5 separate regions of the Homo sapiens genome follow, and regions 1, 2, 4 and 5 are each linked to region 3. The links come from fine-mapping of genetic effects on gene expression. A gene starts in region 3. Each other region holds a variant in brackets. All regions are shown on one strand. Distances are between the middles of the regions.

Evidence for each region.
Region 1: its variant is fine-mapped to the expression of ELAPOR1 in whole blood (TOPMed, PIP above 0.99).
Region 2: its variant is fine-mapped to the expression of ELAPOR1 in visceral fat (GTEx, PIP 0.95).
Region 4: its variant is fine-mapped to the expression of ELAPOR1 in whole blood (GTEx, PIP 0.96).
Region 5: its variant is fine-mapped to the expression of ELAPOR1 in whole blood (TOPMed, PIP above 0.99).

The regions. Positions count from the first base shown.
Region 1 is chr1:109,160,440-109,166,764 of GRCh38, forward strand. ELAPOR1 (endosome-lysosome associated apoptosis and autophagy regulator 1) reads left to right here. Exons shown (of 22, transcript NM_020775.5): 2 at 1,455-1,575; 3 at 4,060-4,252. Among named protein-coding and RNA genes, the nearest start is that of ELAPOR1, 49 kb to the left of the region's middle. The variant A/G (reference allele first, on the strand shown) is at 3,332.
Region 2 is chr1:109,251,389-109,257,713 of GRCh38, forward strand. It overlaps CELSR2 (cadherin EGF LAG seven-pass G-type receptor 2), which reads left to right. Exons shown (of 34, transcript NM_001408.3): 1 at 1-2,001. Among named protein-coding and RNA genes, the nearest start is that of CELSR2, 5.0 kb to the left of the region's middle. RefSeq lists enhancers at 1,651-2,425, 1,686-4,840. The variant G/A (reference allele first, on the strand shown) is at 2,855.
Region 3 is chr1:109,111,014-109,117,338 of GRCh38, forward strand. It overlaps ELAPOR1 (endosome-lysosome associated apoptosis and autophagy regulator 1), which reads left to right and starts at 3,102. Exons shown (of 22, transcript NM_020775.5): 1 at 3,102-3,323. The coding sequence starts at 3,171. It overlaps CFAP276 (cilia and flagella associated protein 276), which reads right to left and starts at 1,734. Exons shown (of 5, transcript NM_001245025.3): 1 at 1,586-1,734. The coding sequence starts at 1,666. RefSeq lists a silencer at 2,854-2,923.
Region 4 is chr1:109,193,794-109,200,118 of GRCh38, forward strand. It overlaps ELAPOR1 (endosome-lysosome associated apoptosis and autophagy regulator 1), which reads left to right. Exons shown (of 22, transcript NM_020775.5): 15 at 628-801; 16 at 3,681-3,861; 17 at 4,186-4,282; 18 at 4,780-4,881; 19 at 6,061-6,187; 20 at 6,266-6,325. Among named protein-coding and RNA genes, the nearest start is that of SARS1, 17 kb to the right of the region's middle. RefSeq lists enhancers at 122-331, 3,544-4,743. The variant C/T (reference allele first, on the strand shown) is at 4,058.
Region 5 is chr1:109,181,102-109,187,426 of GRCh38, forward strand. ELAPOR1 (endosome-lysosome associated apoptosis and autophagy regulator 1) reads left to right here. Exons shown (of 22, transcript NM_020775.5): 8 at 3,944-4,032. Among named protein-coding and RNA genes, the nearest start is that of SARS1, 30 kb to the right of the region's middle. The variant CT/C (reference allele first, on the strand shown) is at 3,930.

The DNA.
Region 1 (6,325 bases), 49 kb after region 3:
AATTCTTCCTTACTGTGTCAATTTTAAGACACGTCTTGATTTCATAGATGTTAGATGTGGAAAAAGCGTGCATCTTGGAATAGATGAAATGCAGTGTGTTTACCTATCCCCAAAAATAAAGCTTATTCCTTTTGATCCTGACGCATTATTAGATTAGCAAACTTCAAAACTTGTATTTTTTGTCTTAGCTCCTTGACGTTATACATGTTATGCAATCAGGCTATCACGTGGGTTAAAGGGGGACATTAATTCTATTTTTCTTATGCATACAGTAATACAAAATACCTCTGGGCTTGAATATAGTTTTAGGTAAGTGTAGATTGTAAAATACTTGTCAGAGCCAAAATCATCACTAATTCCATGGTCTGTTGTTTATTACCAGATTTAAAGGAGGAAGAAACGCTTAAGGGCATTTGGCACATCAATTGTGTTTTCTTTGTTCTGAGTGGAACTGTTTGTTGTTGTTGTTTTACTTAATGCTTGATTTGGTTGTTTTGTTGTTATTCCATTTATTTTTAGCTCAGGTAAAACAATTAAACTATGAGTTTCCCATTGCACAGACAAATTAGGGATGAACAGGCTCAAGTGAGAGCACATCACCTGCCTCGGCCAAATATATTTTCATAAAATGCAATTGGGAATTCATAGTCTTTCTGAGTGGAAAGGAGCATAAGAAACACAGGGAAATAGGGCCAGGCGTGGTGGCTCATGCCTGTAATCCCAGCATTTTGGGAGGCCAAGGCAGGTGGATCACAAAGTCAGGAGTTTGAGACCAGCATGGCTAACATGGTGAAACCCCGTCTCTACTAAAAATACAAAAATTAGCCTGGCGTGGTGGCACTCGCCTGTAGTCCCAGCTACTCGGGAGGCTGAGGCAGGAGAATCGCTTGAACCCAGGAGGCGGAGGTTACGGTGAGCCAAGATCATCCCACTGCACTCCAGCCTGGGCGACAGAGCGAGACTCCGTCTCAAAAAAAAAAAAAAAAAAAAAAAAGAAACACAGGGAAATAGAAATACATACCACTTCTGTGAGGAGCCTTTGTAAATTTTTTGTGGACTAAGGCTTCCATTTAGAACATCCTTCCATTTAGAATGTCCTCGTTCATAAATTCTACACTTTGGAATAAGAAAAATTCCACCTATTTCTAGCCTGTTCCTTAGTTACCTTTCCCACGTTCCTCTGCTCCATAAGGACACTACTTAAACATAACAACAAAGAGAGTCACACACAAAAATGATTTCTAGGGACTAGACCATGGCTGGGTGGAAGGGAATGATCCAAATCATTGTAGTTCTTGTACTCGGTTCATAATCATCAGCTCCCTGCCCGGGGTCCCAGGGCCCATTTCTGAGAGGATGAGCATCAGTAGCCATGGTGCTGGGAAGTGGGTGGGAAGCTGTTAATGTTTGATCACTGCTAATGCACATTTCGCCCACTGTTCTCTCCCCTGCAGTCTGAGTACCACTATGAGTACACGGCGTGTGACAGCACGGGTTCCAGGTGGAGGGTCGCCGTGCCGCATACCCCGGGCCTGTGCACCAGCCTGCCTGACCCCATCAAGGGCACCGAGTGCTGTAAGCAGCTATCCTGCTCAGGGCCTCCCTGTCACTCAGCTTTGGTCTCTCCCCCAAGTCTCCTGCCATCCAATCTGGGCCCTTCCTGGCAGAGCAGCTGCATTAAGGAATCAGATCTTTTCCCCAATTAGTCCCCACATCCCAGACCCTTATGAGATTTGGTGCAGAAGTATTTCATGAATGCAAACTGGATATCTGAATTTGCTTTCATTTTTTAAAGGAATTTAAATCCCATCAGTGGATACAGCATAAGCAATGCCAGCTGTGTGCACTCAGATATTCTTTTCTGTTTGCATACATTTTCATTTTTGCCTTGTATGTCTCTCCAATCTACACTCACTCACCAGCCACAATCAGTCATTAGGCAAGATTGAGATTTGCTTTCATTCTTAAAAAGGAAGTCAGAGAGGCTAAGTTTCTGCAGAGACGTCCTTTAAAATGCTCCAGGCATCACTTCAGGAGACAAGAATCTTCTTGACTGTGGGTCTGATTGTGCAATAGGAAAGGCAGTGGCTTGCCGCAGCCCCAGCACCCGCCTCTGTGACTCTGCAGTCACAACTTTTCTACAATTGGCAGCTGTTTCCCCTGCATTATTCTTTTAGGAATGCAAAGGGAATAACAAGAAAAACCAGGCACTAGATTTAAGGAATTATCTGAAGAGTTGGAAAGGAGTTTGAAGATATTTAAATTCTAAAATCAGCTTAGTACAGTGCCTGGTTGAGTAAGTGAGCAAATAAATACTTGTTAAATTAATGACTGGATATTGCTGAGACCTGAGCAGAACTGAGGTGTGACTAGTGGAAACAAATGAGCCATCTTCATTGAACTCTGCTGACTTCAGTGAGTCCCACTATGTGTTAGCACCATGATGTGCACATGCAGTGTGAACTGCAAAGACAAATAAGGCACACTCTCTGCTTTCAGAAGCTTAGGGTGGTGGAAAGTGCAGACATTCATTCATTCACTCATTGTTTCAGAAACATTCATGAAGCTCCCAGTCTGTGCCAGTCACTGAGCCAGCCATCCCCAGAGGAGCGCAGAGCCTAGTGGGTGGCAGACATATATGATATGAGAAAGAATGAGAGTTACGAATATTTAGGGATCAGGCATAGCTGGGAGGGCCACTTGAGCAAAAGTTTAGACGTGGATGAAGAGTGACACATTTGAGGAAGAGCTTGTGGTCCAGGGTAGAGGCAACACAGAGAAGGTGATGGATGGAGTTGAGGTGAAAAAAGATTTGTAGTGGGAGGTCAAGCTGGGAAGTTAGGCTGCAGGGAAATCGTGGAAAACTTTGAATGCCAGGCCAAGAGCATAATTCTAGAACCAAAAGGGAGTGCCTGTTTATTTTTAAAATAAGGAGAATAATAGTACATACGTGTTTTACTTTTTATTTTTTTAAAGACAAGGTCTCACTCTGTTTCCTAGGCTGAAGTACAGAGGTGCAATCATAGCTCTGTAGCCTCGACCTCCTGGGCTCAAGTAATTTTCCCACCTCAGCCTTTTGAGTAGCTAGGATTACAGGCACACGCGACCACTCCCAGCTAATTTAAACATTTTTTTTTTTGGTAGTGACAGGGTCTCACTGTGTTGCCCAGGTTGGCCTCAAACTCCTGGGCTCAAGTGATCCTCCTGCCTTGGTCTCTCAAAGTGTTGGGTTTACAGGTATGAGCCACTGTGCCTGATCACATCTGTTTTAGAAAGGTACCTCTGACCACAGAATGAGCAAAAATAAGAATAGGGAACTAGTTAGGAGGAT[A/G]TTGCAATGATTGAGTTAACAGGTCATGAGAATTCCACCTAGCATGGTGGCAGTACAACCAGAAAGGCAGAGGCCAGAGGCTCAAGGGAGAAATTCAAGGCTGAAGGGCCATGTGTCATTCAGAGGGGTCAGCACAAGAGACCTTGGCATCTTCTTCACCAGAGAGCTCTCAGAATGGTCAGGGCACCTCTCCAAAGGAAACGAGTGCCAGGAACAAGCCCAAAGTCCCACAGCAAGGCAGAGCATCCGTGGCCCTAGATCTATTTTTTTTATAACAGCTTTATTGGTATATAATTTATATGCCATGAAATTCATTCCTTTAAGGATAAAATTCAGTGGTTTTTAGAATATTCACAGCAACCATCATCACTCTCATTTCACATTTTAATCATCCTAAAAAGAAACCTCATATTATTAGCAATCTCTCCCCAGGCCCCTCCCCACAGCCCCTGGCAACCACAAATCTACTTTCTGTCTCTATGGCTTCACCTCTTTTGGCCGTTCCATACAAATAGAATGACACATAGCAAGGAATATCACTGCTGAAAAAAAAATTTTTTTAAGAAAAATAAAATCAAATCACACAGTAAATGCCATGGCCCTAAATCTTAGTGGGCCAAACTCCTAGACCCCAACCCAGCGCTCCTCCCTTCAGCTGCTCGCAGCCCATTCACTTCTGGGGCTGCAGTGACCTCACTGCCCCACCTTGTCTCTGCCCTGTTTTCCAGCCTTCTCCTGCAACGCCGGGGAGTTTCTGGATATGAAGGACCAGTCATGTAAGCCATGCGCTGAGGGCCGCTACTCCCTCGGCACAGGCATTCGGTTTGATGAGTGGGATGAGCTGCCCCATGGCTTTGCCAGCCTCTCAGCCAACATGGAGCTGGATGACAGTGCTGCTGAGTCCACCGGGAACTGTACTTCGTGAGTCTGCACACACCCCCACCCCACCCCCAGCCCACTGGGTAAGGGGCTACAGGGCACACTGGACAGCCTCCTCCGCTGCCCCTCAGGCTGGGCAGGGAGGATGGAGGGAAGAGGAAGCCAGGCTGCCAGGGTGAGGCCTGCAGCTGTGCCCGCAAGACCAGTGGATGTGACTCTGCCTGGCCCACTCTTACTGGCCTAAACTTACCAGTGATGGACAGGCATTTGTGGGAGGTAAAAAACATGAGGAAATAAGAGAGTGGACAAGGGGGGCAAGGGTTAAATGGCCCAGTCTATTTAAAACAAAACCCAATTGGAGCTGGGCACAGTGACTCACCCCTGTAATCCCAGCACTTTGAGAGGCTAATGTGGGAGGATTGCCTGAGGCCAAGAGTTTGAGACCAGCCTGGGAAACATAGCGAGACCCCTGTCTCTACAAAAAGTTAAAAAATTTGCCAGGTGTGGTGGTGCATGTCCGTAGTCCCAGCTACTCGAGAGGCTGAGGCAAGAGGATAACTTGAGCCTAGGAGTTCAAGGTTAGACTGAGCTATGACCGCACCACTGTACCCCTGGATAACAGAGCAAGACCCTGTCTCATTGAAAAACAAAAACCGGCAGGGCGCGGTGGCTCACGCCTGTAATCCCAGCACTCTGGGAGGCCGAGGCGGGTGGATCACTTGAGGTCAGGAGTTCAAGACCAACCTGGCCATGGTGAAACCCCGTCTCTACTAAAAATACAAAAAATTAGCCAGGCCTGGTGGTGCATACCTGTGATCTCAGCGACTCGGGAGGCTGAGGCAGGAGAATCGCTTGAACTGGGAAGCGGAAGTTGCAGTGAGCTGAGATCGCACCATTGCACTCCAGCCTGGGCAACAAGAGTGAAACTCCGTCTTAAAAAAAAAAAAAAAAGAAAAACAAAAACAAAAACCAAAAAAACCAACCGGATTTCCACCACGGAATTTCAGATCAGCCAATATACTTTCTCAGCTTGACTGGAACACAATATGCAAAGCTTGGGTATCTTCCCGGCTTGGGTGCTAACTTCTTCTTCTTCTTCTTTTTTTTTTTTTTGAGACAGAGTCTCACTCTGTCGCCCAGGCTGGAGTGCAGTGGTGCCATCTTGGCTCGCCACAAGCCCCAGCTCCCAGGTTCAAGTGTTTCTCCTCCCTCAGCCTCCTGAGTAGCTGGGTTACAGGTGTGTGTGCCACAATGCCCGGCTAATTTTTTTTTTTTCTTTTTTTTGAGATGGAGTCTCGCTCTGTCACCCAGGCTGGAATGCAGTGGTGCCCTCTCCGCTCACTGCAAGCTCTGCCTCCCGGGTTGACGCCATTCTCCTGCCTCAGCCTCCCGAGTAGCTGGGACTGCAGGCACCCGCCACCACGCCCAGCTAATTTTTTGTATTTTTAGTAGAGATGGGGTTTCACCGTGTTAGCCAGGATGGTCTCGATCTCCTGACCTCGTGATCCACCTGCCTCGGCCTCCCAAAGTGCTGGGATTACAGCGTGAGCCACCGCACCCAGCTAATTTTTTTGTATTTTTTTAGTAGAGATGGGGTTTCACCATGTTGGCCAGGCTGGTCTCAAACTCCTGACCTCAGGTGATCCACCTGCCTCAGCCTCCCAAAGTGCTGGGATTACAGGCATGGGCCACCTTGGCTGCTAACTTCTGAAACTGATTCTGCCTAGCCTTTGCCCAGTGCTGGCTGAAATCTTCCAAATGCTGTGAGACCCCAATGACTAGCAAATTTTCTTGGAAAGCTCAGTCCAGGGTGCTTGGAGAACTGGATATCTATTTCAGATATGTCTTTTGTAGGCCAGGCACTATTCTGGATGCTTTACATATATTATTTTCTCTAATTCTCACAAGAACCTTGTGAAATAGGCATTACTATTTCTATTACAGAGACGAGGAACTGGAAGCTCAGCAAGGTTATGACCTGCTCTTTGTTATCCGGTTTACAGCCGGCGAGATTGAAATTCGAACCCAAGCTTCCACTGCTCCATAATGCCACATTCAAATAACATTTATTATGGGCAAGGCAACACTGGGTCCTAGGGAGCGAAAGTGGGGGGA
Region 2 (6,325 bases), 140 kb after region 3:
GCATCATGAGTGGCAATGCTCGGGGACAGTTTTATCTGGATGCCCAGACTGGAGCTCTGGATGTGGTGAGCCCTCTTGACTATGAGACGACCAAGGAGTACACCCTACGGGTGCGAGCACAGGATGGTGGCCGTCCCCCACTCTCTAATGTCTCTGGCTTGGTGACAGTACAGGTCCTGGATATCAACGACAATGCCCCCATCTTCGTCAGCACCCCTTTCCAGGCTACTGTCCTGGAGAGTGTCCCCTTAGGCTACCTGGTTCTCCATGTCCAGGCTATCGACGCTGATGCTGGTGACAATGCCCGCCTGGAATACCGCCTTGCTGGGGTGGGACATGACTTCCCCTTCACCATCAACAATGGCACAGGCTGGATCTCTGTGGCTGCTGAACTGGACCGGGAGGAAGTTGATTTCTACAGCTTTGGGGTAGAAGCTCGAGACCATGGCACTCCAGCACTCACTGCCTCGGCCAGTGTCAGCGTGACTGTCCTGGATGTCAACGACAACAATCCAACCTTTACCCAACCAGAGTACACAGTGCGGCTCAATGAGGATGCAGCTGTGGGCACCAGCGTGGTGACGGTGTCAGCTGTGGACCGTGATGCTCATAGTGTCATCACCTACCAGATCACCAGTGGCAATACTCGAAACCGCTTCTCCATCACCAGCCAAAGTGGTGGTGGGCTGGTATCCCTTGCCCTGCCACTGGACTACAAACTTGAGCGGCAGTATGTGTTGGCTGTTACCGCCTCCGATGGCACTCGGCAGGACACGGCACAGATTGTGGTGAATGTCACCGACGCCAACACCCATCGTCCTGTCTTTCAGAGCTCCCACTATACAGTGAATGTTAATGAGGACCGGCCGGCAGGCACCACGGTGGTGCTGATCAGCGCCACGGATGAGGACACAGGTGAGAATGCCCGCATCACCTACTTCATGGAGGACAGCATCCCCCAGTTCCGCATCGATGCAGACACGGGGGCTGTCACCACCCAGGCTGAGCTGGACTATGAAGACCAAGTGTCTTACACCCTGGCCATTACTGCTCGGGACAATGGCATTCCCCAGAAGTCCGACACCACCTACCTGGAGATCCTGGTGAACGACGTGAATGACAATGCCCCTCAGTTCCTGCGAGACTCCTACCAGGGCAGTGTCTATGAGGATGTGCCACCCTTCACTAGCGTCCTGCAGATCTCAGCCACTGATCGTGATTCTGGACTTAATGGCAGGGTCTTCTACACCTTCCAAGGAGGCGACGATGGAGACGGTGACTTTATTGTTGAGTCCACGTCAGGCATCGTGCGAACGCTACGGAGGCTGGATCGAGAGAACGTGGCCCAGTATGTCTTGCGGGCATATGCAGTGGACAAGGGGATGCCCCCAGCCCGCACACCTATGGAAGTGACAGTCACTGTGTTGGATGTGAATGACAATCCCCCTGTCTTTGAGCAGGATGAGTTTGATGTGTTTGTGGAAGAGAACAGCCCCATTGGGCTAGCCGTGGCCCGGGTCACAGCCACTGACCCCGATGAAGGCACCAATGCCCAGATTATGTACCAGATTGTGGAGGGCAACATCCCTGAGGTCTTTCAGCTGGACATCTTCTCCGGGGAGCTGACAGCCCTGGTAGACTTAGACTACGAGGACCGGCCTGAGTACGTCCTGGTCATCCAGGCCACGTCAGCTCCTCTGGTGAGCCGGGCTACAGTCCACGTCCGCCTCCTTGACCGCAATGACAACCCACCAGTGCTGGGCAACTTTGAGATCCTTTTCAACAACTATGTCACCAATCGCTCAAGCAGCTTCCCTGGGGGTGCCATTGGCCGAGTACCTGCCCATGACCCTGATATCTCAGATAGTCTGACTTACAGCTTTGAGCGGGGAAATGAACTCAGCCTGGTCCTGCTCAATGCCTCCACGGGTGAGCTGAAGCTAAGCCGCGCACTGGACAACAACCGGCCTCTGGAGGCCATCATGAGCGTGCTGGTGTCAGGTAAGGAAGGGCCCAGGTGGCGCTGGGGTGGGGGTAGCTCGCGGGGATGGTCTGGGCAGCCACTGGAGGTAGGGTGCGATCCAGGAAGCAGCTACAGATCCACCTCCCTGCCCAGTGCCTGGCACAGAGCAGGAGGGGCAAGAGCCAGCTTGGGAAGAAGCCCCAGGAACCCTGGCGGCTGGTGCAGGCCCCACCTTCTGCTGGGCTGGGCTGGGCTGCTTCGGTTGGCTGCCCCCACTGTCTACCAGCCTGTGACGTGGTCGGGGAAGTGTTGTGAGGCTGCCCCGGCTATGGCTGCCAAGAATTGTGAAAAAAGGCGCGTGGAAGCCTGGGGGGCCAGGAGAGCTGGGGGAAGGGCAGAGAGGACTGTGGCGCAGGAGAGGAGGCGAGGCCAGGGCCCCTTCACCCCCATCAAGATATTCCTGCAGTCTCACACAGCCTTTGGCAGAGCTGGGGACCACGGGAGCACAGGGCTGCCGCCACCCAGGGGTCAGGACCCTGTAGTCCTCTTCTGGCCCCTTTTGCCTCCTGGCTGAGCTGCAGAATCGGCTGACAGGGACTTTGTCTAGCGCATTCTTTTCCCTCCAGGCAGAAAGAGCCTGGCCTGGCTCCCCCTTCAGAGCTCCCACAGGAAGTGAGGCCAGAGCTCATTGTCTGTCCAAACAGACCCCACTTTCAGAGTCCGTGGTTCGGGTCTGGCTTGGAGGAGGGGCTGCAATGAAGCTGGGGGGCAGGCTGAGGCCTCGTGGGCCCCCCTTGCCACCTCATGGGCTGTTCTTAGGGTGCCAGGCCTTCCTTTCCTGCTAGCTGTGACCAGCCCAAGCTCCAGGAATGGAGTGTAGGGACCAGGACA[G/A]GCCAGTGGACTGGTGAGCTTTGAGGGCAGAGACCCCAAGGCACCTTATCTGAGGAGAGAACAGAGTCCCAGGGCGTGGGAGCCTGGCCGGAACCCAGGCTGGGGCATTCCTGCTGCTTGGCCAAGCACTCAGCCTACAGACTCCCTGGACAGCAGGGCTGGGGGAGGAGAGTTGGAGGGGGTTGGTGACAGTATTCTGTCTTTTTTTATCAGCTGTGGGGAGCCAGAGGTAGCAGCAGGGAGAAGACCACACCCAAGTTGCTGAGTGCCTTCCCCAAGCCTGGGAACAACTGAGACCCTCATGAGGGGATGCTGTTAGCTGCACCCCAGGGGTGGATCAGGTCACATCCCCTCTAGGCAGCCTTCAAATCCATCAGGGAAGGGAGGAAAAGAAGAGGCTGGCAGGCCCCTACTCCCACCCCAGGGAGTGTGGCCTGAAGGGGAAGGAGGGGTATGCCAGAGTCAGGGCGTGGCCTCACTCAGGGTCCTTGCTGGACAGATGCCTCCCTGCCCCACCCTTCAAAGTAGCCACAGGAACCAGGAAGCAGGAGCTTTTCAGGGACTGTGGCTGAGGTTCTGAGCCTCCTGAGACTTCAGTTTCCCCTCCAGGAGGCGGAAGAGGGAGGCTGGAGCTCCTGTGTCCTCAACTGTGCCTGGGCACTTGAGACAAGTGGGAAGGAGGTGGGAAGGAGGGCCTCTCCCTCTGGTCCTCCACACCCAGCCTGCCTTTGGTGAGCGTGGCCAGGCACTGGCAGAGAAGCGCCCCCATTAAGCCTTCGGTCTCCCACCAGGGCAGAGCCCTAGACCTTGGTTCCCTAGTCTAGAGAAGGCTCGGGGCAACATCCAGGACGGCTCCTCCTGGCCCGGCAGCTCTGGCCCCACCCTCTCCCTTCGGCCCTGACCCTTGGAGGCAGTCACCACGGCAACCCCAAAGTTCAGGGAGGCCGGGGTGAGGGGGAGCTGACTCCCACTGCCCCTTTGTTTTCCTCCTCTTGTTCTTTGTCTCTTCTTTCTTTCCCGCCCCTGCCCATGCGGAGCCCTGCAGCACTGCCTCTCTCCGGTGCCCTCTCCCTGCTCCTGCGGCTCTCCGGCTCTCCCACTTGCCCATTGCTGGCTCCTCTCCTGAGGCTTTGTCTTCCCCTGTTTGGTCTCCGTGTTTGTGCCTCCACTCTCTTCCCTATGGCTGCAGCTGCCCCAGCCTGGGCCGATGGCTCCCCTGGAGGCTGAATTCTCCTCGCCTCTTTCTTCCTCTGCTCAGACACGCAGCAGCTCCTGTCCATGGTCTGGGCAGCTCCCAGAACAGCAGAGCCCTCTTGGCCTCCAGTCTCCGCTGGCACATCTGCCAGGGGAAGAGAGGCTGGGAGGCTGACCGGGACCTGGCACTTTTCCAGGTGTGCCTGGCTAAGCTTGGGACACAGGTGGCATTTCCTGGGGTCAGAGGCCATCCCAGCTGTTCCTTTTCTGTCCAGGAAGACAGCTCAGGCAACGTACTCCCCACCCCTGTTCCCATCCTGCCTTTGCACCTGAGGGGTGACCTAGGTCAAGGCAGGGGAGGGTGATATAGAAAGGAGAGAGCAGTGGGTTGACTGTTGGGGATGGGGGACAACAGCAGAGGGGGCAGGTGGCCACAGATGGTGGACCAGATGGGAAGCAACAGAGACATGCTGGGAGAGGGGCCCAGGCGGGGCCTAAGACGATGGCGGTGGGGGACACAGGGAGAAGTGTTTGTTCCCAGGGCTGAGGGGTGGCAAAGTTTCTCCCGCTCCATGGCCTTGGTTGCCCCCTCTCCTCTCTTAATCAGTTATGGGCACTGTGTGTGGAGTCTTGGGCTGCTTTCTGCCTGGAGGGAATATCCCGTCAAGGAATCATTAGGCAGATATACCAGGTATACAAGAGCTCTGTGCCAGCTGAGCATCCTGGTGCGGGGAAGTCTGAAACGGAGAGGAAAGTAGAGCCTGATGACATAAATCTGGGCAGGCTTCCTGGAGCAGGTGAGCTAGGGCAGGTTAGAAGACTCAGAGGACTGTGGGCTGGTGTCTGGGTGGGAAGGAACAGCCTGTGCAGCAGCTTTGAGACGAGAGCAGGAGGAACAGAAGTGGGTGATGACAAGCAGGCTTGCTGGTGAGAGCTAGTGAGAATAAGCAAGTGATGAGGCTGGAGGGTAGGTGGGCAGTCGGCTGAGGACATGGCTGAGATGGGGGTCTGCTTTCAGCCTTCCCGGCTTCAGCTGAGCCACCGCTGGTACAGTCAGCCACCGCAAGTAGGTACAACACAGATGCAGAATTTGTTCCCATGTCCCTTGCCTACTCCCACCCCACCCCAGAAACATGGGCTCCTGCCCCGTTACTGCTAGGGTAAGCATTTGCTTTTTATATCTAGTTGGGCTCCCCCTGCTATGTGGTTTTGTTTGTTTGTTTGGGACAGAGTCTCACTCTGTCACCCAGGCTGGAGTACAATGGCGCGATCTCGGCTCACTGCAACCTCTGCCTCCTGGGTTCAAGCAATTCTCCTGCCTCAGCCTCCTGAGTATCTGGGACCTCCTGAGTAGCTGAGATTACAGGCACCCACCACCACGCCCAACTAATTTTTGTATTTTTAGTAGAGACGGGGTTTCACCATGTTGGTCAGTCTGATCTCGAACTCCTGACCTCGTGATCCACCCGCCTCAGCCTCCCAAAGTTCTGGGACTACAGGCGTGAGCCACTGCGCCCGGCCCCCTGCTATGTTTTAAAGTCCGTTTATTCTTTGTGGAGACTGAATAGATTGTCATCCACATCTCAGTGTTTTCTGAACACCTACTATGTGTAAGGCATTGTAATAAATACAAATATGAATATGCCAGTAGCTCATGCCTGTAATCCCAGTGCTCTAGAAGGCTGAGATGGAGGATCACTTGAGGCCAGGAATTTGAGACCAGCCTGGACAACACAGCAAGACCCCATCTCTACACACAAACAAAAATTAGCCAGGCATAGTTGTGAGCACCTGTGGTCTCAGCTATTTGGGAGGTTGAGGTGGGAGGATCGCTTGAGCCCAGGAGTTCGAGGCTACAGTGAGCTATGATCGTGCCACTGCTCTCCAGTGTAGGCGACAGAGAGTCTGTCTCTTAAAAAAAAAAAAAAAAAGACTATCCCTTCTTGCCCTGTAAAGCCATTTCCTCCTTCTCCAGGCCCCAGCTTTCATTTTTTAGCTAAATAAAATTCATTCCCATGTGTATGTGCATTCAGGTGTGTATGGTATTTCTGGGCTTAGGGTGTGTGGGTGGAATGAGACACCAGCAAGTGTGTTTTAGTGCTTAGCTGTTTATAAGTGAGTGTGTTGCCTGGGGGCATAGCAGGCATTTGGGTGTAATGGTTGAGCCAAGTGGGTGATGAGTAGCTAGAGGCCCTAGGACCAGAGAAGAGACTGACTCAGTGGGGCTCTGGGGTCTCAGAGTGGAGAGCTGCCCAGGCCCTTCTATCTCTGCCTTCC
Region 3 (6,325 bases):
ACCCCCTGTGGCACTGCTGTAGATCTGTTACTCTTCCTCCTGGAGATCACCTCACCTGCCTCCTAGCTGATCCCTCTTGTCTCACTCTCATCCTATCCAGTCTGCTGCCACTTGTGCTTCCTAAAACACCCATCTGATTGTGTCACTGTGGTACTTAAAATCCTGCTATGGGGCTGGGACCCATGGCTCATGCCTGTAATCTCAGCACTTTGGGAGGCCAAAGCAGGAGGATCACTTGAGGCTAGGAGTTTGAGACCAGCCTGGGCAACAAAGGAAGATCCTGGTTCTACAAAAAAATAAAATAAGAATTAGCCGGGTGTGGTGGCATCACCTGTAGTCCCAGCTACTTGGGAGGCTGAGGTGGGAGAATTGCTTGAGCCCAGGAGTTCGAGGCTGCAGTAAGCCAAGATTGCACCAGTGCACTCCAGCTGGGGTGACAGAGCAAGGAGACCCTGTCTCAAAAAAAAAAAAATATCCCACAATGATTCCTCACATCCCTAGGATGAAACCATAGCTAGCTAGCATGGTGTACACAGCACACCCAGCCAACCAAGGGCATCTCTCCAGCTCTGATTTCTGAGTGCTTCCATTGCACGCCTACACTCCAGCCCTTCTAGACTATTTGCAGTTCCCCAAATAAGCCATTCTCTCTCTCCTTTCCATGTATTTGCACCTGCTGCTTCCTTTGCCTTGCATATCTGGTTCCTGTTTCCTTCTTCCTAACTCACATTCTATCCACTCCCTCACCTGGCCTACCTAACTCATATTTGGACATCAAAATGCATCTGCTCTGTGAAGCTTTCCTTTAAGTTCCTGGTTCTCACGGCACCCTGCACACAACTCTGTCACAACATGTGCTATTGTGCAAGCATTTTTGCTATTGTCGGTCTCTCTTTACTACTAGAGTTCCTTGACAGCAGAAGCTACATCTAATTTATTTATATATCCTTGGCGTTTAGCAGAGTGTCTGGCTTATAGTAAATAAGTATTGAATAAATAAAAAGGGGCTCTCAATATTGTTATTAGACCACAATCACCACTTAATTCATCTTATTGTGCACCACTTCATATATCCCAATCACTTCTACCAGAAAAAAGATCATCTAAGTTCCGAAATCAGTGTCCACCATCATGCTAAACACACACATAACAAACATATTGTGGTGTTAACCAGAAGACAGAGACAGTGTGAACACAGATGTGTAAAGCATGACCTCTGGTGGCTTTCAGAGGATTCTCTCCCACTCCATATCTCATTTCTCTTCAGAGAACAGTCTTCCAAATAGGGAAATGGGTAGCTTGAAGGAACCTGGGCACTGCCATAACTTATACTCACAATTGATTTGAGCTGCCAGAGCCCCTTGTTCCTCTAGACTAGAACTCTACTTTCCTCTGCTCAAAAACGCCTCTGAAACGTTAGCCGACTTGAATATGGAGATAGGGAGGCAGGCAGAAAACAGACTTCCCTGGTACCCGACTGAGTGTCTTCACCAGAGTCCTTTATGTTACCATCTCTGCTCATCACACAGACAGAAAGAAGACTACCGGCGACCCTACTGGGAATCTGCGCAAGAAACCACAGTACCTTGGAAGCCCGCAGTTCTCCTAAGTAGGAATCATCGTTATCTAATGTAGGCTGCTGGAAAGGGTCCCGGGTGGGAGGCATGGCTAAATGCCTAACTCTTTTAAGAGGGATGGGAGGCCCGCTCAGCCGCAGCACAGCCTCACTGGCATAAGATCCCGGGTCCCAATTGTTTGGAGCGCTGGTTTCGGTTGCCAGGCAACTGCCCAGCCATCTATGACAGAGGAATTCCCTCAGAGGAGGGCGCCACCTGGCGGCTGACCACGGGAGGCCCCTGGGGAGGAAGCTCCGGGGACTGCAGAGGGAACGTTCCGCTGAGCGGGCCCGAGACTTGGAATTGCACTCCTGAGCCTCGGCGGAAAAGTGCTGGCTGCTCACCATCAGGACTTCTGCAAAAGACTTCAGTTGAGGAAAGAAGTCCTGAAAGATGACCCAGAAATTTCCTTCTCCCTCGCACCTAACAAAAGGCTTTCAAAGCCATGAGAGAATGAGGATGTCAAGAGACCAAAGAGGGCCGGGCGCGGTGGTTCACGCCTGTAATCTCAGCACTTTGGGAAGCGGAGGCGGGCGGATCGCTTAAGCCCAAGAGTTCGAGACCAGTCTGGGCAACATGGCGAAACCCCGTCTCTACAAAAAGTAGGAAAAAAATTAGCTGGGCTTGGTGGCACGCGCCCGTAGTCCCAGCTACTCGGGAGGCTAATCCAGGAGAATCTCTTGAACCCGGAAGGCGGAGGTTGCAGTTAGCCGAGATCGCGCCACTGCACTCCAGTGTGGGCGAGAGAGTGAGACCCTGTCTCAGAGAGAGAGAGAGAGAGAGAGAAAGAGAGAGAGAGAGAGAGAGAGAGAGAGAGAGAGAGAGAGAGAGAGAGAGAGGCCCACGTGCGGCGCTTGGGAAATTGCGGCTAAGGCAAACTCCTCGCTTAAACTCGGATCAACTACAGTGTCAGGGCTTCTCTTCTAGCCGGTTGTAAAAGCACGGATGGATTTGGCGGGATGTAAGATCTCCAGGAGTGGCCTTCGTAGGAGGGAACACGTACTGGGGCCTCTTCCAGGCGACGACGTCTGGAGGGTGATCTCTCCATCTTCTTTCTCTCGGTTCACACGCCACGTGTGCAACATCGGAGATGCTCATAAAATAACCCCTGGCCCGAAAGGGCAGTAGAAAACGGAAATTTGTTGGCTGGCTTGGAGGATGCTTCCACTGTGTTCTTCACACGAGCCCCGGGCCTGCCTGTTGGGCCGGTTGCGCACCCCGGGCGCGCGCTCTCCCGCGCCCACGCCGCGCGCACCAGCGGCGGCGGCTGCCATGGCGACCCGCAGGTGAGCTGCAGAGGCGCGCGTGGTCCCTGCCCCACCCGCGCGGAGCCAGAGAGGAGGCGGTTGTCAAGGCGACGTGGGTAGGAGGAGAGGACAGAGGGAGGAGGAAGGATGGGCGGTGTTGGCGTAGCCGCAGGGAGGTGACTGAAGCGAGCCTGGCCTCTTGCATCCTCCGCCTGTGTACCTCCCTCCCCTTTTTTTCCGCCTTCTGCCAGCAGAAGCAGCAGCCGCAGCACCTGAGCCGCTACTGCCGCTCACTCAGGACAACGCTATGGCTGAGCCTGGGCACAGCCACCATCTCTCCGCCAGAGTCAGGGGAAGAACTGAGAGGCGCATACCCCGGCTGTGGCGGCTGCTGCTCTGGGCTGGGACCGCCTTCCAGGTGACCCAGGGAACGGGACCGGAGCTTCATGCCTGCAAAGAGGTACTGCCGCCCCCCTACCCGATCCCGCTTTGGTCACAAAAGTCTTGGATCCAGGCGGAGACCTTGGGGACCCAGGCGCAGAGAGTTTCAGACGCCACGGAGTTTAGATTTCTTTGGGGATGAGGCGTGGGGGGAGGGAAGAGGAGCCAGTCTGGCGTCATGAGGAGGCCAGCACATTGGAGGACTCACGGATAGATCATCCTCACAGATTGGGATGCTGAGCTCAGCGAGAAAGGTCCCAGCCCCAAGAAGGGGAGCTACCTGGGTACCTGAACTCAGAATGAGGGAGGCAGACGAGTTATTTTCCAGTTAGGATGAACTCACCTTAAAAGTGGTTGACAAGAAAAGATTATGCACAGAGAAGCAAAATAGGAAGAGGAAAGAAGAGTAGTGGGAGAGGAAAGGAGTTAGGAAGGCCAGAAAAAAGTATCAGAGCGAAGTGGTTTTATCATGGCTACACAAAACGGAGTGTGAAGGTGGGAGATGTGCGAGAGGGATGATAGGATTCCAGCTCTCTAGTTCCTTGTTTATTAAACATCGGTTAGTGCAGACTGTAAAATGTGTCTCCTCCTTATAGCTTGGCCTCCCCGCAGCGTACTATGTTTAGTGTACCTGACAGTACACGACTCACCTTTTTGCAGATTTTGAGTTCTTCAATATCTTGTGTTCTGCCAACCTCTAGTCTCCTTCTCTGACTTAACATATGTCAAAGTCTTTTTCAAGGTATTTCCAATATGTTGGAAGCAGAATTCAGACAATAGGTAGTCAATCTCTTATAACCAAAAATAGCTTTTGAAAAGTCATCTTGGAGGAACATAAAAGGGCACTAGCAGCAACAAAACTAAGTCATTTCTATGTTATTGAAATAACAATATTTGGTTGTGCTCTGAGCAACTTTTTTAGAAACCATATGGCAGAGGCAACAATAAGATATTTACAAGAACTACGTTGGGGAAGGCAAAATAAAAGTTCTGTTATTTCTGTGAAATGTGAAGGACTTCATAAAAAGTCAAGCATCTAGCTCTGTAAATTTAATCCCAAATATCAAGCTTGACTAAGGTTTTGAGAGGTTAGAATATATATATAGATGTATTTTCTTTACTTTAAAAAATATATGTTTTAAAATAGAAATGAGGTTTCGATATACTGCCCCGGCCAGTCTCTAACTCCTGGGCTCAAGCGACTTCCCACCTCGGCCTCCCAAAGTGCTGGGATTATAAGAATGAGCCACTGCGCCCAGCCCAGAATATTTTTTATAAATTGTTAGTGTGAACTGATTGGCAACAACTCCATCCCATATGGAGATAAATTCTTATAAAGATGTTCTGTGTCTACAGCACAGCAGGTCATAAAGAAGTCAGGTGTGGGGGGGAGGATTTTTGTGTGAATAAAGATACTTGATTTTGAAGATTCATGAATATGACATAAGTGACCCCAGTGAGTGGGACTTTTGATAACCTTTATTAGCTCCAATGACAACCTGCCCTGGGCCATCTACATTTCCACCTAGCCGCATTATGACCTGTTTTAGAGATCGCAGGGAACAGTATGATCTTATCAGTGACTGGCTCACTGGCCTTGATGGCCTGTGGTCTAACCAACCAAAATAATGAGACCAAGAAAGCCCACTTGCCTAAGAATCAAACAAGGGAGTTTCCTGAGTGGAAGGTAAGAATCATACAGTTTAACTACCAATTCTTGTTGAGATCTTTGTCAACAATGGAAAATATGAGACATTTCAGAAATTAAGCACTTCTATTATCTTGGTTTGGAGGAAGGGAAGAATATTGATACTTGAGAACTCGAACTTGTGTACGAATTTTGCCTTTGGTCCTGTTTGAATAACCAATATTTGCCTAAGCAAAAGGTCTTGCCACAAAGTGTAAGCTTAAGGTAGTGGAAAGCTATGGAGCTCAACCTACCAGGGTTTCAGTCCTGTTACTTACCACGTGGTTTTTGGATTTGTAGAATGGGTATCAAAATAACACCTACCTCAGAAAGGATTGCTTTGAGTATTGAAATAGAAAATACATTGGAAACACAAAAGAGAGTTACCCACCCTCCTTCTCTGTTCAGCTTCTTTCCCATTAGATCCACACCCCATGCCAGATTGGAAATGGCTTAGGAGGCATGCCCATTTGCCACAGGCGTCAGCAAGTCCTGTTTACATTCTCCTTGAGCAAACAGTGGCCATTGAACACCCTCAACTCCAAAACAATCAGGGAGAGAATAAACCCATTATTATAGTATTCATTTGGCAATATGAACTGATCAAACAAGTTTGGGGGCTTCCAACCCCAAATGGTGAAAAACCAATTCAAGGTAGACCAGCTCTTCTCTGTTCTTTTTTTTTTTTTTTTTTTTTGGTGAGACAGAGTCTGGCTTTGTTGCCAGGCCAGGCTGGAGTGCAGTGGCATGATCTCGGCTCACTGCAGCTTCCACCTCCCAGGCTCAAGCAATTCTCCTGCCTCAGCCTCCCAAGTAGCTGGGATTACAGGCATGTGCAACCACACCCGGCTAATTTTTGTATTTTTAGTAGAGATGGGGTTTCATCATGTTGGCCAGGGTGGTCTTGAACTCCTGACCTCAGGTGATCCACCCGCCTTGGCCTCCCAGAGTGCTGGGACTGCAGGCGTGAGTCACTGTGCCCAGCCACTCTTCTCTGTTCTTAATCTTCATACGAATTTCTTGTGAGCTGATGTTGGGTGTTGATGGCAGGACTCTTATCAGGCCAAGGCTGACCCTAATGACAATAATATTGTTCCAGCCTTGTTCGTGAAAGCTGAGGCATCCCTCTGGATGTAATCAGGAAACGGAGAGGTTTAGCTTGAGGCCTAAACTGAAGTGGCAAAGTGGGAGTTCTAGACTGCTGGACATGTGCTGGGGCTTGGCATTCCTCTCACAGTTTTATAATAATCAGGGTCACAAATGGAACTAAACATCCTGTATGATATTCGTTTTCATGAATCGTTTCTTTAGCCAAGGCTAAGTGCTGACTGCGA
Region 4 (6,325 bases), 83 kb after region 3:
TCTTTCGGGTACCCTGGACTTTTGCCACAACCTTCCTTCCCTGGAGCTCCCTCTGCTGCTGTGGGAGGGAATGACAGTTGTGTGCGGCTACCGCTGAATGGTGACCCTAAAACAGAGCAATGAATGGGTTTATGGGAAGAAAAGCCCCTTTCGGAGTTCAGTTTCCTACAGAGAACCTGAGAAACAGGAAGCAGAGTTCAGTGAGTTTTGCACTGTGAGGGGGTGAGGAGGGAGCAAGAAAAGTTTCTCTTCTCCCATCTCAGATACCCTTTTCTGGTTAGTGCCTCATTGTCTTCTGCTGGAAAGTAAAAAGGATCCTCTTGTGTCTTGAGAGGCTTCTATAATCTAGGCACAGGGTTATAAGGCTATAGAATTTGTCCAAACTCCCTTCTGAACAATAACAGATTTAGGTTTGTCCATCATATATGTGCTAATAATTGAATGGCAAATGTACATAAATCCCACTAGTGCCTGTTTCACTTCTTTTACTAGCCACTCCTAATCCTTTCTTCCTCCTCTTGACCCCATTTGGGCGGGACCAGACGGGGGAGAAAACTGCTACTCTTGGCTGCAGGCCCTCAAGGCCCTTCCTGACCAGCTGGCCCGACCCGTCCCTCTCCCCCTCAGATCCACTCTCTGTGCTACAACGATTGCACCTTCTCACGCAACACTCCGACCAGGACTTTCAACTACAACTTCTCCGCTTTGGCAAACACTGTCACTCTTGCTGGAGGGCCAAGCTTCACTTCCAAAGGGCTGAAATACTTCCATCACTTTACCCTCAGTCTCTGTGGAAACCAGGTAAGGTATACCAGTTGACAGGGTGAAAATTGAATGGGGGAGGCCCATGGATCAGAAGCCAGAGACAGACACAGGAGAAAACCAGAAATCCTTCAGGTAGCAGGGGGTTGAGGAGCTTCAAAGGTTTTTACATATTATTCTCCCTGAGGACTTTTTCCCCTAAAATTAAATAATCAGGATTATAAACACTTAAGAAAATAAAGATATTTAAAATAATGTGTTCTTGCCGGGTGCCTGGTGCGGTGGCTCACGCCTGTAATCCCAGCACTTTGGGAGGCCGAGACGGGCGGATCACCTGAGGTGGGGAGTTCGAGACCAGCCTGACCAATATGGAGAAACCCCGTCTCTACTAAAAATACAAAAAAATTAGCTGGGCGTGGTGGTGCATGCCTGTAATCCCAGCTACTCGAGAGGCTGAGGCAGGAGAATCGCTTGAACCTGAGAGGTGGAGGTTGCAGTGAGCTGAGATTGCGCCATTGCACTCCAGCCTGGGCAAAAAGGTGAAACTTCATCTCAGAAAAATAATAAAAAATCAATAAAATAAAATAAAATAAGGTGTTCTTTTACCTGACCTTTATTTCCTCAAAATGAGTCTATTTAAAAATATGCAGGAGGAAGGCTAGGCGCGGTGGCTCACGCCTGTAAACCCAGCACTTTGGGAGGCCTAGGTGGGTGGATCATGAGGTCAGGAGATCGAGACCATTCTGGCTAACACGGTGAAACCCTGTCTCTACTAAAAATACAAAAAAATTAGCCGGGCGTGGTGGCGGGCACCTGTAGTCCCAGCTACTCAGGAGGCTGAGGCAGGACAATGGCATAAACCTGGCAGGCGGAGCTTGCAGTGAGCGGAGATCACGCCACTACACTCCAGCCTGGGCGACAGAGTGAGACTCCGTCTCAAAAAAAAAAAAAAACAAAAAAGCAAAAAACAAAACAAACAAAAAAAACCCCAGAAATATGCAGAAGGAAAGGTTTTTTTCCCTTGCTTGAAAAAGCAGTCTTCAGCAATCACTGCATTTGTCGCTTGTTTTCTAGAGGCTGGATAAAATCAACTGTTTCTAGTTCATCCACACGTCTCTTTGCTGACAGTATGAAAGAAAGTAACATGAAATGCTTTATAAGGAAAGATTGTCACCATCAGCCATTTCATGCTGCTGCAAATATTTCAGATCCAAAATTCAAAGGCAGAAATGCAAAGGTTAATCCCACCACTGCACTTGATTAAATTGCAACAAGCCACAATTAGCAGTTGGAAAGTTCATTTCAAATGTTACAAAAGAGGCTGGGCATGGTGGCTCACGCCTGTAATCCCAGCAATTTGGAGGCCAAGGCAGGCAGATCACCTGAGGTCTGGAGTTCGAGACCAGCCTGGTCAACATGGTGAAACCCTGTTTCTACTAAAAATACAAAAATTAGCCCGGCATGGTGGCACACATCTGTAATCCCAGCTACTCGGGAGGCTGAGGCAGGAGAATTACTTGAACCCAGGGGGCGGAGATTGCAGTGAGCCAAGATCATGCCACTGCACTCCAGCCTGGACAACACAGCAAGACTCCATCTAAAAAAAAAAGTGACAATATAAAGAGCATCTTGAGCATCTAGTCTTTGACTCTGTTGGTGGTAAGGCCTTTACATCATAGAGCTCTGACCCATCTTCTGCAGCATGCAAAGAAGTCGATGGGTGTTTATAAAGAGAACATGTCAAGAAATAAACTAATCTATGAAAGATTAGAGATAGGTGTCTCTATCTTGTTTTCAGAAGTCTTCGAAGAAGTTAAAATGAAGCCTCAGAAGTAACAGGTCATGATCACTTAGGAAATAAGACTGATTAAAGCAGGCTTCATGTAGCAAAAGTGTCATTCAGTGAATTATGGAGAGCAATGAAGGTGGGGAATTTGGGGAAATGGTGTATTTTTTTATCTACTCCTTTCCTGTTTAGAAATGCTTATGATGTACTGCCACACGATAGATCCTTAGTTCAAAGACAAAAGAACTCTATTTTATTGTAATGTAAAGGTTTTCTTCAGTTTTCAAGCTCATCTACTTCCTACAATCTAGAAAAAAAAAAAAAGGCTGAGACACCAGATTTAGCACTTTTTTTTTTTTTGAGGTGGAGTCTCACTCTTTTGCCAGGCTAGAGTGCAGTGGCACGATCTCTGCTCACTGCAACCTCCGCCTCCCAGGTTGAAGCGATTCTCCTGCCTCAGCCTCCCGAGTAGCTGGGACTACAGGCATGCGCCAGCACGTCCAGCTAATTTTTGTGTTTTTAGTAAAGACGGGGTTTCACCACGTTGGCCAGGATGGTCTCAATCTCTTGACCTCATGATCCACCTGCCTCGGCCTTCCGAAGTGCTGGGATTACAGGTGTGAGTCACTGCACCCAGCCAGCACCATTTATAATAAAATTTATAACATTGAAAATGTTGACTGGGCACAGTGGCTCACCCCTGTAATCCCAACACTCTGGGAGACTGAGGCAGGAAGATTGCTTGAGCCCAGGAGTTCAAGACCAGCCTGAACAACACAGAGAGGCCCTATCTTTACGAAAAAAAAAAAAAAAAATTAACCTGCGGTTCCAGCTACTTAGGAGGCTGAGGCAGGAGGATCACTTGAGCCCAGGAGTTCAAGGCTTTAGTGAGCTATGATTGCACCATTGCACTCCAGCCCGGGCAATAGATCAAGACTCTGTCTCAAAAAGACAAAACAAAACAAAAAAATCAAATCTGTCTCGTCATTAGACCTGGGATGAATCATTCCCCTACAACATACCATTGAAACGCTGAAAATTTAGATGTAAAAAAGCCTTCCCTATTCCCTTCTGGGAATTCCTCTGTGACCACTCACTTCTTCCTACTTCTTCCTCCCCACTCCCCAACCAGGGTAGGAAAATGTCTGTGTGCACCGACAATGTCACTGACCTCCGGATTCCTGAGGGTGAGTCAGGGTTCTCCAAATCTATCACAGCCTACGTCTGCCAGGCAGTCATCATCCCCCCAGAGGTGACAGGCTACAAGGCCGGGGTTTCCTCACAGCCTGTCAGCCTTGCTGATCGACTTATTGGTGAGTAACTCCGCTGCCTCAGCCTTGTTTGAGAGTGTGTGTGTGTGTGTGTGTGTGTGTATGTGTAAGAGAGTGTGAGGTTACCAGTCTGGGAGGTAAAAGGCCCCACATGAGGGGCCCAACCTCTTGACCTGTGTTTTCTATTCCACTCTGTGTGCAAAGTGCTCCCAGGGACTCTGACAAACCCTTGTTTCAC[C/T]CTTTCATAAGCCACTCAGGGATGTGATGAGATGAAGTGAGGTTGGATGTTGACAGGTATTGGAAGAATTGAAGTGGTTGCCAGCTAATGCTACTAGTGAGAACTAATTAGGAGCTCTAATTTGGCAGGGGTGACAACAGATATGACTCTGGATGGAATCACCTCCCCAGCTGAACTTTTCCACCTGGAGTCCTTGGGAATACCGGACGTGATCTTCTTTTATAGGTGAAGATGAGAGGCTAGGCTAATGCAAGTGAAACCTAGGACTCCTCCATAATTTCTGCTGCATCCCTCCCTCTCTAGCCACCTACTGCTTATCAAGCCAGAACATGTCTGAGGTCTAGCAGATCTGCCCAGTCATGATAGCTAAGGGCTGGGAGTTCCTGATCCCAGCTTCCTGGATATTACTGGAGCAGATCTGCCCTAGAGGCAAGGAGAAATATTGGATGATCTGCAGTGGACTTCCCTTCCAGCCTAAGCAGGCTCCAGTGTATGCTAGCCATGACTTTCCTAAACCAGGGCATTTCCCCCTTGACTACATATTGTTGATCCCCACCCTTTCCACGTATAAACCAAGGCCTGTGCACTCCCTGTGTGCCAGGCTAAAGCCCAAGTCCTGACTTCCCCAGCAAGGGAATTGCTCCATGCGGATTTCTCTTGGTGGCTGTCCAATAACACAGCTGAGTGACTCATTCCCTCATGGGGGCTGGCTTTCTCTGCAGGTCCAATGATGTGACCCAGTCCTGCAGTTCTGGGAGATCAACCACCATCCGCGTCAGGTGCAGTCCACAGAAAACTGTCCCTGGAAGTTTGCTGCTGCCAGGGTAAGCCCTGCAAAGGGATGTAACAAAGGCCAAAATCTCCCTTGAAGTCATTCCATCCTGAGATCCAGAGATTACTGAAAAAGAGCAAAAAAGAAAAGAGTTTGAGATCCATTAATGGGTGCTTAGGGGCACAGTCATGGCCCCAGACCCTCAGTCTTCATATGGCAAGAATGGGGTAGAAGGAAGAGTGAAAGCTATTCTCATATTCCTGGTCCATTAAGGCAGCAGCTGCGTAGCATGGTAACCAACAGCTCGGCTGAGAGCCAGGTTGAATCATCTCCTCCACTAACCAGCTATGTTATCATGGATGCATTTCTTACCTTCTTTAGGCCTCTTTTTTCCATATCTGTAAAAATGGGCATAATGCTAAATTCCCTCAGCGGGTTGTTTTGAGGATTAAATGAGACAAGGAGACTTTAGGACGTTTCATGATCTCTGGCTATTATGAGGATTAGTAAAGGTTTAGGGATCCTAGGAATCTCTCTGCAACGAAAATACCCAGTTCTGAGGTTAATAGCTGAGTGAACTAAATCAAAAATTTCTAAATGAATATGACCACAGGACACCCCCTCCCCTCCCCGCATAACAGCAGCTAACATCTTGACGGGCACTAGCGTCTTGAGGAAGACGTTTTGGATATGCTGCGCCTAAACTGACTGGGGAGATGGGGAGCAAAGCAGGGCGTCTTGACCCAGTAGTGGTGTCTGAGTGTCAAATCCCTGTTCTTGCCATTGTAAACATCACAGTAAAGTACATAACAGGTATCCATACCGGAAGTTCATTCCTGAACCCCACCTCAACTCCAATCCCACCCCGAGGAAGCTGCATCAAAGTGGCTATTGCAAAATGTCACAAGTCTGTGGGGAGGACAGGAACCTCAAAGGGGTTGATGAGACAGCCATGCTGGAGCTCAGACACCTTACAATAGCTCTCATAAGATGTCAGCAAAAACATAAACGGGCAGAGGGTGGGGAGCCCACTGGAGGCCAGGAAGGCCTCTTATCAGTGAAATCAGAGATCAAAACCTGTGTTAAGGACTAGTTGGAAGGATCCTGGTAGGGCTAATGGTTTGGGCAGGGAGAGGGTAAATCAGGCAAGCTATGAGACAACAGGCTTCCAACCAGATCTTCCCCACCCCTCCAGCGAGTGAGAGCTCAGGTCTCTTTTCTGCTTTGCTAGAACGTGCTCGGATGGGACCTGTGATGGCTGCAACTTCCACTTCCTGTGGGAGAGCGCGGCTGCTTGCCCGCTCTGCTCAGTGGCTGACTACCATGCTATCGTCAGCAGCTGTGTGGCTGGGATCCAGGTGGGTTTCCCTCTGATCGGGCACTTCCATGAGAGAAGGGAATGGGAGATCTGAGTTCCTTGTTTTTCTCCCCAACAGAAGACTACTTACGTGTGGCGAGAACCCAAGCTATGCTCTGGTGGCATTTCTCTGCCTGAG
Region 5 (6,325 bases), 70 kb after region 3:
GGAAGAAAGAGAAGCTCAGCGACACTGAGGAGCTTCACAAAAGCATGAGCTGCTGTCTGACCCGGGCCTGTGTCCATTCAGTACTGAAACCCTCAGGAGAAATGTTTTACTTTGATAAAACAGATCCCAGTGAGAACATTGTACTCCTGGAGGTGGGGGGATATTGAAAGGAGGAGGCAGGTGCAGAAAGAGGAGTTGGAGCCCCTGAGATAAACTTTATCTTCTTACAGTTTTGCCCAGGGCCAATCCTACTTAAGTCACTTTTCACTCCCTCAACCAAACACAGAGGCCCATCTTCCAAACTTGACTAGCATCCAACTTAAACACTTTGATGAAACCCAAGCTGGGAAAGGAGGTTGGTCTCAGCATTTTGGTTAATCATTTATTAAAACCACCTTAACAGGGATCAGTGTGTAAACAGCTGAGCCATTTTTGCTAAAACCCAGAGCTAGGATGTCAGATTGAGCAAATATTTGACAAGCAGAGAAAGGTCTTGGTGTAGAATGCATTTTCTAACACATAACTTGTACTTTGCTAGACCTAAGAATTGGCACCTTCCCACGTTTTCAGCCTCTCTCCCCACATTTTTCCTGGCCAAGTCAGTCAAAAGCAGGAGTCCATGGGTCCCTCTGTGCTGAATTGGGCCTCCTGCTTGGTAACCAAGTAAATGAGCTGAGAAGACCCCAACTGTTTCTCAGCCAGTAGTTCCCACCTGTCCAGCCTAATAAGACAGAGACAGAAGAGGTATGGAGATGTGCAGTTGAGAGAACTTTCCAGCTCAGGCCAACAAGACTGCAATTAGGAGATTATCTGATCTACGAACCCATGTGGTGCCTGGAGAAAAAGAAGGAATCAGTTGAGAAATAAGCCCTTAACTGAAAGGGAGGTAAAGAGACCTTTAATCCTTATTCACTCTCCTGTGACTACTCCCAAATAAAAATAATTCCCGGCTGGGCATGGTGGCTCACACCCATAATCCTAGCACTTTGGGACGCTAAGGCAGGCAGATCACGAGGTCAGGAGTTTGAAACCAGGCTGACCAACATGGTGAAATCCCATCTCTACTAAAAATACAAAAATTAGCTGGATGTGGTGGTGCACACCTGTAATCCCAGCTACTCAGGAGGCTGAGGCAGGAGAATCACTTGAACCCGAGAGGCGGAGGTTGCAGTGAGCTGAGGTGGCACCACTGCACTCCAACCTGGGCAACAGAGCGAGACTCTGTCTCAAAAAATAATAATAATAATAATAATAATAATAATTCCCAAACATGCAGGTAATAATAGTTACTGCTATCTAGTGAGTATCTACTTACAATGTGCCAGGTAGGTACTGGCTCCAGCAAGGTATATATTATTATTCCTGTTCTACAGATGAGAAGGCTGAGGCTCAGAGAGGTTAAGTAACTTGCCTAAAGTGACACAGCTGCTAAATGATGAAGCAGGATCCAAACCCATATCCGTCTAGCTTAAAATCTCATTCCAGGCCGGGAGCGGTGGCTCACACCTGTAATCCCAGCACTTTGGGAGGCCAAGGCAGGCGGATCACGAGGTCAGCAGATCGAGACCATCCTGGCTAACACGGTGAAACCCTGTCTCTACTAAAAATACAAAAAATTAGCCAGGCATGGTGGCGGGCGCCTGTAGTCCCAGCTACTTGGAAGGCTGAGGCAGGAGAATGGCGTGAACCCGGGAGGCGGAGCTTGCAGTGAGCCGAGATCGTGCCACTGCACTCCAGCCTGGGCAACAGAGCAAGACTCCATCTCAAAAAAAAAAAAAAAAAAAATCTCATTCCACTACACCATACTGCTTGCCAGGTAATATAAAGAGAGAGAAGTTCTTACCATTATTCAGTGCTTATCTGCAGGTGACACAGCAGTCATATTCGAAGTAGTGGTGGCAGTAGTAACAGTATTGTAATGTGCACCTCATAAAGCAGTTGTTTTTATTCTGGAGGAAGTAAATTCCCTAGAAAACTTTCAAAAAGTTTTTATTTGTATGAATTACGCATATTTTTCTAGGTAGAGAGAAACATCTCTTTTTTTCAAATTTTCAAAAGAGTTTTTAAAATCAAAAAAAGTTAAACCCACTGCTTTAAAGAGAGAGTCAAGCACAATGGCTCATGCCTGTAATCCCAGCACTTTGGGTGGGTGGCTGAGGTGGGAGGATTGCCTGAAGCCAGGAGCTCAAGACCAGCTTGGGCAACATAGCGAGACTCTGTCTCTACCAAAAAAAAAAAAAAAAAAAACAAAAAAAAGAGAGAGAGAGAGAAAAGAAAACAAACCCTATGATGAAATAATGAAAAAAATAAAATTAAAAAATGAATTCATAGAAGTAGTTCTCACTATCCAGAGGTTCACAGGGTTAAAGCAGAGCTAACATTGAAAGGAGGAGAACATGCAGAGAGCAGAAGAAAACTGATAGTTCACGTTTTTCTTCTTTCTTTCTTTTCCTTCCTTCCTTCCTTCCTTCCTTCCTTCCTTCCTTCCTTCCTTCCTTCCTTCCTTCCATCCTTCCCTCCTTCCTTCCTTCCTTCCTAACAGAGTCTCTCTCCATTGCCCAGGCTAGAATGCAATGGCATGATCATGGCTCTCTGCAGCCTCAACCTCCTGGACTCAAGTGATTCTCCTGCCTCAACATCAAGTAGCTGGGACTATAGGCCTGCACCACCACGCCCGGCTAATTTTTGTATTTTTTGTAGAGACAGGGTTTGCTATGTTGCCCAGGCTGGTCTTGAACTCCTGGGCTCAAGAGATCCTAAAGTGCTGGGATTACAGGCATGAACCACCATGCCCAGCAGTTAACATTTTTCATTAGGTATAAATCAAGAGTTAAAGATAGTGTTGGGCTGGTGCGGGAGGCGGGAGGATCGCTTGAGCCCAGGAGTTCCAGGCTGCAGTGAGTTAAGATTGTACCACTGCAGTCCAGCCTCAGCAACAGAACAAGACTCTGTCTCTAAAAAATAACAATAATAAAATAATAATAAAGAGGCCGGGCACGGTGGCTCACCCCTGTAATTCCAGCGCTTTGGGAGGCCGAGGAGGGCAGATCACCTGAAGTCAGGAGTTCGAGACCAGCCTGACCAACATGGAGAAACTCCGTCTCTACTAAAAATACAAAATTAGCCAGGCATGGTGACTCATGCCTGTAATTCCAGCTACTCAAGAAGCTGAGGCAGGAGAATCACTTGAACCTGGGAGGCGGAGGTTGCAGTGAGCCAAGATCGTGCCACTGCACTCCAGCCTGGGCAACAAGAGTGAAACTCCATCTCAATAATAATAATAATAAAGATAGTGTTGGGATGCTTGGGTTGAGGCAAGTGGGAAGAACCTTATGTGTTAGGTGGAGTCCAAGGAAATTACAAACCTGGTTTGTGTAGAATGATTGCATGAAGAAAAGGAAATTTCCAAGGTGGAAGGCCTTCATTCTAGGCATATATTAGAACATTCATAGAAAGGCTTGGAATGAGTATGAAAGCAAAATCATGTTTTACTTCAACACTTCAGGAGTAGAAAAACCACACCCAGAGTCAAGACACTAAGGCACCTGGAAGATGGTGAACTCTCTGAACCTCCCCAGGTTTCAGGGAACTTAGGTTGGCAGTGGTTAACCTGCAAGAAGCTGTTTCCGTCTACCCTCCTTGCTGGTCCTTTGGCCAGGCCACTTCTCCCTCCCTTGCCCCATGGGGCGGGGGACGGGAAGCGGCAAACAGTGGTTTCTCATCAGCACCTGGAACAGGTGCAAAGGGAAGCTTGAGCAGGGTTGGGGAACTGGAAATGACACTATTGAGACAAGGGGAAGGGTGAGTGTGCAGGATTTTCTACTTCCGGCAATATTTGTGTGGCAATGCACCCAGGGACTTGGGAGTCACAGGGCCATGAAGAGGCCAGGAGCTCAGCTTTCTTATGTAACTCCAAATATTTCTTCTTG[CT/C]TTGGCAATTTAGAGAAAGGATCTTCTTCCTGTAACGTGCGCCCAGCTTGCACAGACAAAGATTATTTCTACACACACACGGCCTGCGATGCCAACGGAGAGGTGGGTAGTACAGTCTTGGAGCCCCTTAGCCCCAGATGGACTGTCTCCCACTCCCTGAGGTTTGCCACCATTTGGAACTTCAGCAGTCAATGACATTGGCACTAGTTAAAACCCCACAGACCTTTGAGGTGACCCTAGGGCTAGGTGGGGTGGGGGGCAAAACGAGACCTCTTCATTCATTTTCCGGTCAGAAACTGTTTTTGCAGCGTTTGTTTCACTGTTTATGCACATATGTTCTGTTTCAAAAACCCACTTCATTCTCTCTTGCTTGGTTTCTTCTATTTGCCGAGCCACTCCGGCAGAGCCTGCCTGTCCGTACACAATGTCCTCCCGGGGCTCTTCAGGCTCACCCCCTCGGCACTGTTTTGTGGGCTGGCACGGGGAATGGATTCCTGCCTATGGTCTGACTTGTTCCGTTTCTGCTGCTTCTCTTTCCTCCAGGCTTTCTGCTTCAGAAAAGAACTTTCCCTCCTAGTCTACACTGTCACTGAGTCAACAAGCATTTTTTGAGGCTGACTGATATGTCAGGCCTGGCACTATAGGCTGGGGAGTCAGAGACGACTGAAACAAGCTCCTGCCCCCAGGGAGCTCACAGTCCTGTATGAGAGGCTGGAGAGAGGAGAAAAACGGGCCCAGTCAAGGCAACCAGAGGGATGTGCAGGGAACTGGGGGAGCCCAGAAGAGAAGCGACCAGGACTTGGGGTGGGGGCAGCAGAGAAAGCCTCTCAGAGGAGGCCATTTGTTCAACAGTCAACAAATATTTATCGAGGAGCGACTCTGTGCCAGGCACGGTGCTAGGTGCTAGGCATGCATCACTTAACAAAACTGAGGGAACATCTAGCCCTTATGGAGCTTAACTCTTGTTGGGGAGGGAGTGGAGAGAGAGATAATAGACAACAAATGGGTATATAATATAGCAAATGGTAGTAAGTGGTAGGAAGGAAAAAAAAAAACCAGGATTAGGAGAGAGAGAATGAAGGAGGGTGGTGCCACTATTTTAGAAGGGTAGGGATGTCCTCTCAGGAGGTGACATTTGAGCAGAGACCTGAAGGAGATGAGGGAGGAGCCGTGGAGCTTTCCAGGCAGCAGACACAGCAGGAGAGGAGGCGGCAGCTGGGCCAGGTGGGTGGAGAAACAGTGTAAGTGAGCAGGGAAGGGCTTGAGGTGCACGGAGAAGGATCTGGCTGAGCTGTCTGTATCCCTAAGCTAGAGATTCTCAAGAGGATAGAACTAGGAGTTGGGCATTCTGCACTCAGCACTAAGCATGATGCTTGGCTCTTAGGGAGCATAAACATTTGCTGGCTGGGCGGCTGACTGAATTCTCCCTTTCCTAACTAAGCATGGGTTAAAGTCTGGTCCTTAACAATGAATATTTTGCACAGTCATCTCTTACCAACACCACCTCCCCCACGTATTTGGGGCATCATCCCCTTCTCCAGCAGCCAAGAGAGAATGGCTGTGTCTTGTCAGTTGCACCTTAGACTCAGTTCTGTGGTGTCTGGTATTCTGTATGACCTTGTGAACATTTATTTTCATTTTCTTGGTCTCAGCCAACTCACTAATAAAAGGCAGACAATTAATCCTGCTGCTCTTCTCCCTCCTGTTCATAACATGTGACTGAATGTGGCTGTCTTTCCTCCCTTCTGCCCCATTCTCTTCCCTCCCTGGGCTCACGCCAAGGCCTTCTGGGTCAGTACCGTGCTTGCTGCCTGAAAGCCCGGGTGTCTGCCTTGGCCTGACCACTGCCGGGGCCTTTAGATGCTGGGTCAGACCAAAGCCTGTGTTCCCGCCTTGCAGCACAGCCAAGGCCCAGCTCAGAGGAGGAGCACTGAAGCGTGTGCTTTCAGGAGTGCGCATGAACATGCATTCCCCAGCTGTTCCTTGCAGACTTCTGCTTTGTGCCTCATTCCCGCACTGGTTCTGCTCAGTCTGGTGATTGAGTTTGTCTTCTGAACAGTATTTTAAAATCAAGGGACACACCTCGAGCTGGCTCCTATGATTACATTTCTGACCTTGGCTGTGCCTCAGTTGTTTCTCAGGGACCAGGATGGCCCATCCATTGGGGTCAGTGAATGTGCTGCTCCAAGAGCTGGCCCGAGACAGTTTGCCAGCTCCTAGGACTCTCCTCTCCCTGAGACTCACAGGAGGCAGGTGAGGTTCAAGCCTGGGGCTCTGGCTGTCGCAGCCCTCCGCAGGGAAGAGGGCCGAGCTGAGCAGGGGAAGGAGGAGCCCAGGGCTCCCCATCAGTTAAGGCAGTCTGTGTCCCTCCTTAAGGACTTGTTTCTTATCTTGA